2 linked regions of the Homo sapiens genome follow. The protein of the gene in region 2 purifies or fractionates together with the protein of the main gene of each other region. This does not show direct contact. Each region holds a gene or a part of one and is shown on either strand. Other genes may lie near its edges.

What was found. Proteins that work in one complex are often made in the same cells at the same time.
Region 1: the proteins of CCNYL1 (region 2) and SPPL2B purify together in Homo sapiens (affinity purification with mass spectrometry; 2 studies listed by BioGRID and IntAct, with this or other methods). This does not show direct contact.

What each region holds. Positions count from the first base shown.
Region 1 is NC_000019.10:2,331,684-2,335,183, reverse strand, and holds part of SPPL2B (signal peptide peptidase-like 2B isoform 2 precursor), read right to left. Parts: intron 583-3,500; coding exon 463-582; intron 1-462. UniProt on the Homo sapiens protein: Intramembrane-cleaving aspartic protease (I-CLiP) that cleaves type II membrane signal peptides in the hydrophobic plane of the membrane. Functions in ITM2B and TNF processing.
Region 2 is NC_000002.12:207,753,140-207,756,639, reverse strand, and holds the end of CCNYL1 (cyclin-Y-like protein 1), read right to left. Parts: intron 3,053-3,500; coding exon 2,942-3,052; 3' UTR 466-2,941; downstream 1-465. UniProt on the Homo sapiens protein: Key regulator of Wnt signaling implicated in various biological processes including male fertility, embryonic neurogenesis and cortex development. Activates the cyclin-dependent kinase CDK16, and promotes sperm maturation.

The sequences.
Region 1 (3,500 bases), on a different chromosome or scaffold from region 2:
AAGGAGGCGGGGCATGAGGACTAAGTGGGAAAGGAGGTGGGGCCTCTGAGGGAGGGACTCATCCAGCAGCAGGTGTTAGTGCCCCAGTCAGGAAGACGGTGAAAGGAACAGGTCTCGTCCCTGGGGCCCCACTGTGCCCTCTGCTGTTACTCCTCTGAGGACCCCTCTGTCTGGGCCCACTGGATAGGGTCCCCGGCATGGAGCAGTAGAGACCCTTATCTACCACATGGAGCTCGGCCGGTGCCTCTGGATCTGCACCCCAAGGCCGCATGGACAGCTTGCATTGATGACCAGGGTTGGGGAGGCCCAGGGGAACTGGGGGCCAGCTAAGAGTCCCCCAGACCTGGTCAGGGCCTGCCTCTCGCCTCTGGATCTTTCCTGCAACCCCAGCCGGATGTGTCTCTAGAGCCCCGGGGCCCCCGCATTCTCCTCCGCAGCGGCGCCCGGCCAGCGGGTACTCACTGCCTTGCTGAGGTCGTGCGGAAGATGGGCCCACTGCGGGTTGTAGAGGATGCAGTAGTCTTTGCCTTCGGGGCCCCCGGCCTGGGAGACCACGTGCACCATGCCGTACTCACAGGCCACCTGCAGGACAAGGCCAGCAGTCAGAGCCACAGCACGGGACGTGCGGGGCTGCACCGCCCCACGAGAAACAGGCCCGAGGAGGGGAGGACGCCTCCAGGAAGGGCGCCCATGTTCACCAGGTGGTCTGGGATGCTTCCCCCTCTCGACAGGACAGACAGGGACGTGACCATACGTGGTTTACAGCAAAGACCCAGACTGGCTCACCTTCCTCAGGGAGCCCCAGGCTGGTGACCATGAGTGTGTCAGGTCACCCCTTTGTGGCTCCCGAGTTTCTGCACCAAAAAACAGGGATCGCACCACCTCCTGGGCCTCCCAGGATCAGTGGGCACGGTGGGAGAATGACAGCCACGGGCAGAGCCACGGGCAGAGCCCTGAGCAGGGAAGCAGGGCAGGGCCCCAGCGGACCTGGCCCCCAGCCTGGGCGGGAGGCCTGGACAAGCAAGCCTCTGCACCCCTCAGGTCTGGGTGGCCTTTGACCCACAGCCCCGTGGGCACTGCTTGTTGGCTGGTGCTCCAAGGCACACGGGGGCCCAGGCACACGGTGGGGCCCAGACGAGGGGGATCCCCAGATCAGCACCCCTCAGCTCCCACTGGTAGAACAGCAGGAAGCAGGTGGGCCAAGGGGCCTACGGGCACCGGGTCCTGAGTGGGACAGGCTGAGGTTTGCAACAGGTCACGCTGCCACCAGCAGGACAGACAGCGTCATGTTCCCCATGAAGCCCCAAAGCAGCAGAGTCCAGCACAGCAGCTCCCACTTCGCAGGAGGGAGAAGGAACAGCCAGCCAGGGCTTCAAGTTCCTGCTCTCCAGCCTGCAGCAGCAGCAGCTCAGAGAAGGCCACAGGGAGAAGGCCCGGATCCACGGGCAGGAGCCCCTGACACACAACGGGGACAACAGGCCAAAGCCAGCCAAGAGAAGCAGGGGTGGTGGCCACCGCGCCCAGGACAGAACGGGCTGGGGCCCTTGCCACGCTCTCAAAATGAAGTAGGGGGCAGGACCAGGCCCCAAAGCCCTGGACGCCTCCCAGGAGGGCTGCGGAGTAGACGGGCCTGGACCAGAAGGGACGACCCCCACCTCTTCAATTTAATGCTTAACAGAGCAGGATGGAGCTATGAGGAAAGACGGATTCCACAAGCAGGAAGCTGGCACTGCTCACCACGCCTCCCACCGCAGGGACCACGGCGGACACTGCAGGGCTCTGGCCTAGGCAGAACCACGGTCCTCCCAGCAGAGCCCAGTCCAGCCGCCCGCACCTGCCATCCCCACCTTCCTCCTGCTCCCGCAAAGCCCAGTCCAGCCTCCCGCACCTGCCGTCCCCACCTCCTCCTGCTCCCCTCCCAGCAGAGCCCAGTCCAGCTGCCCGCACCTGCCATCCCCACCCTCCTCCTGCTCCCCTCCCAGCAGAGTCTAGTCCAGCCGCCCGCACCTGCCATCCCCACCCTCCTCCTGCTCCCCCTCCCAGCAGAGCCCAGTCCAGCCGCCTGCACCTGCCATCCCCACCCTCCTCCTGCTCCCCTCCCAGCAGAGTCTAGTCCAGCCGCCCACACCTGCCATCCCCACCCTCCTCCTGCTCCCCCTCCCAGCAGAGCCCAGTCCAGCCGCCCGCACCTGCCATCCCCACCCTCCTCCTGCTCCCCCTCCCAGCAGAGCCCAGTCCAGCCGCCCGCACCTGCCATCCCCACCTTCCTTCTGCTCCCCTGCCCAGGGCCCCCACCCAGCAGCTGACAAAGACATCTCCATCTCGCCAGGATGCCAGTCACCAGAGGGTCTCACAGCGATGGGGCCCAGGTCCCAGCTGCTGTGCCACACTGCAGACCCTCAGTGTGGGCCCCCAGGGGAGCCCGGCCTGCACAGGGAGGAGGGGTCCCAGAAGAAAAACCACGTGCCAGGGACCAAGGAGACCCACCCCATGCCCTAGGCCTGCCCGTTCTCAGGAGCACCCAGCCCTCAGCCTTCTGGGGCTGCAGGGCTCCTGCCAGGCTGTAAACCTCCCAGACAGAGAGACAGCCGCACCCCCTGGTCCCCAGGGGACCTGTCACGGAAACAAACAGGCCACAGCCATTTGCCTCATCAGGAACAGGATGGCAGCCACATGTCTGAACGGATGCTGAGCTGCGCACCAAACGGGCCGACACCACAACGCCACAAGGGAAAACAGTGCAGACGCAGCTCTGCCAAGCTAGGACTGGGGAAGGACAGCTCTGGCTTGGCTAAAGGTCCCAAAGGTCCCTGGTGCCAGACACCAACCCCAGCACACAGGCACAGACGGGCTCTCCAACAGCCGGGCCCTCATCACTGAAATCATGCAAAGTCTCCGGCCTGGTCTGGGAGCATCTGGGTCAAGGCCCTGGTGACCTCGGGGTGGCAGCATGGTGAAAGCCCACGGAGCCCCGGTCCCCACAATCGACTGGGGGTCTCATAGCTCTTGGCTAATGCTGCTTCCTTCCCACAGCTGCCCCAGCCCCACTCCAAGCACCTCCCATGTGACCTCCCCCAGAGCCCAGGCAGAGTCAGGAGCCCTTTCTTTCCAGTTCTGCCCACCAGACTGCCTGCCCGTGAGAGCACCCCTTAGTCTGGCCCCGGTGCCGAGCCCGGAGGGTGCCCCTTCCAACACAGCCCCCCAGAACCCCTCCTCCAGGAGGGATGTTATGGGTCACGGCAGAGGCCAAGAATCCACAGTCCGGCCCACCTTCTGTGTTTGTAAATAAAGTTTTATTGGAACACAGCCAAGCCCATTCCTAAGGAAGGGTCTCCGGCTCTGGAAGAACAACAGGAGAAACCAAGCAACCAAACCAGAGGCCACGTGGGCCACAGAGCCCAGCAAAACTACTGTCTAGCCCTTCCCAGAAAACACTTGCCAAGCTCTGTTCTATGGGATCAGGGACTCTGGTGAAAAGTGTCTTTTGTGTAAAATGGGAA
Region 2 (3,500 bases):
CACATTAAAGTCAAATTATGTGGCTTAAGACATCCTCTCAACAGCAACACAAATTCTAGTTCCTGTCTTTCCATTCTCTTTCCTGTTTGTCTGAAAACCTCAAATACCTCTTGTTCTAATTCTACGCTATTCCTTTAATTCCTTTCTCTTTGATACATTTTGCTTAATTTTATATTCTAATGTGCTTTTCCCTCTCAGACACGATAACCAACTATTCAAGATGCCATCTAATGCACTATGCCATTAAGTATTGTGGTCAGTGATTTTAAGTGTAATAAATTATCTTCAGGTTGAAAAGAGCATATGCAAAAGAAATGGATCACTACATCTTAACTAGAGGCATGGATCAAATCAACTTATGGTTGGTTTGAAAATGCTTTAAGACATATCAGGATTGACTTAAAACTAGGCTGGGCAGAGATGTAACACTATGTGGATAGAAGTGTTACAAACACACTAGCCATATTTTAATTAAAATAGAGTTTATTAGCTTTTAATATAAACATGAGAAATAAAAACCACATAAATTGTAGCATTCTTTTCAAAATAAAACTGCAATCAATACTTGAATCTCCAAACTCTGAATTCCATAAACAATATTTGTTTTTTTGAGGTGGTAGATTGTAATATTTGTATACCATTATTTATCATTTATGTCTCTGTCCTTTAAAAATGATGGAAACTGCAGCACAATATGATGTGAAGCATTGCTATAATAGAGGAAGTACTCCTGTCCCAGAAATGCTTTGTTTATAAGCAAGATTCCTAGGATTAGATTTGAGAAAGTAGGAGAAACAGATTTCACATAGTTGAGAACACTAACCTCTTCTTAGTATTTCAAATTTAGGTGACATTATCGGTCTCCTAAAATTATTTGCTCCTTGCCTTTTAAAGCCTGAAGAGTTCCTAAGGGTTATGTAAGTATTTCTTAAATAGCAGGACTTAATGGGACACCTACAGCTTGGTAGCATGTAGGATGATAAAACAGCTGTTCATATCACCTTCTATAATTAGGGTCCAATTCCTTTTATTACATGTTAATTAACACTGCTCTTCAAAATCTTCCTTTAAAGAAACTGCGGTAATCAAAGCATATAGAGCACAGCTCTGCGGGTAACTACTTTTAAAAAGAGGGCATTTTATGGAGATACAAGGTATTCCAAAAGTTCAGTGTAATTTTAAGCTTTGATACTTGTAGAAATATAAATGCTACAAACCTTTACAAAACCTTGTCTGAACATTTTTCTTCTGCTTTTTTCTTTGAGACAGGGTCTGGATGTCGCCCAGGTTGGAGAGCAGTGACATGATCATGGCCCACTGCAGCCTTGACCTCCTGGGCTCTACTGATCCTCCCACCTTAGCCTCCAGAGTGGCTGGGACTACAGACACATGCCACCATATCCAACTATTTTTATTATTTTTTTTTACAGGCAGGGTCTCACTATGTTGCCTAGACTGGTCTTGAACTCCTGCACTCAAGCAATCCTTCCACCTCAGCCTCCCAGGGTACTGAGATTACAGGCATGAATCACTATGCCCAGCCCATTTCTTTTGCATTTAATTTTGCATTTTTCTAAGAGATGGGGTCTTGATAACGTTGTCCAGGTTGGAGTGTAGTAGCTATTCCTATAGGCACCATCATGGTACACTGCAGCCTCCAATACTTGACCTCAAGCAATCCTCCAGCCTCAGCCTCCCAAGTAGCTGGGACTATAGGCGTGCACCACCACACCCAGCTTCATTTTGCAAATTTTGAATATAAAGCTTTTAATTTTTTGTTTCAGTCAATGTCTGCTATCAAGAGTGACCGAAACAAAAAATTAAAAGCTTAATATTCAGGAGACAGGTGCCAGTTGCACTTGTAGTCCCAGCTACTTGTGTGGCTGAGGCTAGAGGATGGCTTGAGACCAGGAAGTTCTAGGCTGCAGTGAGTGCACAATGATTGCACCTGTGAAAAGCCACTGCACTCCAGCCTGGACAACGCAGTAAGACCCCCATCTCTTTAAAAACAAACAAAACAAAACAAAAAACTTTCAAATCATGTTTTTTAAAGGTTTATAGCATTTATACTCATGCTGCAGTGCCTTGGAGGGCCCAAACTATATTCAAGCTTAAAACTGCTTCACTTTTTCTCATCGTCACTGAACCACCATGTTGGTTGGCATTATGAAAATATCTTTTAATACATTTATTTAGCAAGAGAAAAATTATCAGAAAATGAGAAGCACCATTTATAGTTCACAAGAAATGCAACATGGACTCCAATAGAAGTAGATATCAATAACTGATACTTCCTCTGTTTATGACCCCAAACATGCTAAAATGCTAAAGTAATGCTTGCAAAGAATATGAATGACAAATGTTATCCAGCAGCTTTTTGGTTTAAAATGATTGCCAATGACTAGCAGCTTCAATGGTAACAGTAGGGAGGAAGAACCCTTCAGTACCTAACAACGCTGCTGTCTGCTCCTAAGTGGCTTTAGTTAGAGTCCCATGTTTTAATGGTAATACTGCATTGATTTTAAAGGCATATGCAGCAAAATGCGGGGGGAGGGAGAGAAACTGGAAGAAACATAAAAGTTATATGGTTAGTGTCTTTAAAGTCTAAAAATTTAAACTATTGTTTAAAAAACCTTACATAGTTCACAGCTATCGGCCCACACAGTAAGCAAATATCTGTGTGTAGGATGGGAGCCTTCACTTTGGAGTGGTTTTTGTAACTCTGTTTACATTAAAAAGGACAGAAGAGTGTTTTGTTGCATTGACAAGGTCCCATTCTTTCCTGTGGAGTATAATCCTTGTTGTCCATGAGTCTCTTGAATTTGAGATCTTTCCTTTTGATGAAAACACTAATTTTGCTGGTTTTTGAGCAGGAAAGGTGGTATTTCTCCAGTCTTTGTAGATGAAGGTCCCATGACGTTATAACCCCTCATTTCTCCTTTTAAGAGAGGATGGCTTTAGAGCGCTGAATACCAATGAAGTTATCAGCACTGAAAGACCTTCTCATAGCGGCTCTACACAAGTCTTTGTCTTCACACAATCTAGAAATAGCCTAGGAAAGTCAATCAAATAGAAAACAGGTACAATTTTAAAAAGGGTTCCCGCCTTTGAAAGAGCACCATTGTGAAAGCCACACATGTGGACTCCTTTAGATAGTTCACAGTTACAGCTACTTTGGCTGAGTTTTACACTGCCAGGTTGTGGGGACACTACTTCCTGACAGTTCACCAAGGTAATATCCTTTAAGGGCTATGGTTAGATTCCCAGAGAACAAAGGGGAATTTATTATATTATTAAAAAACTGGATTCCCAAAGATATCAAAGGTATTGTGATAGGGCTCCTAACAGCAATAGCATCTGTTATCTGTTAACTTATTCCTTAAATATAACAAACGTACACTTGTGCAAAAAAATGTTTATTCAGCTATTCAAATTCTACCCAATCCTTATTAGCTATTATATACTCAAAGCACATTTTAATGAGGCAGGTGTGTGCTGGA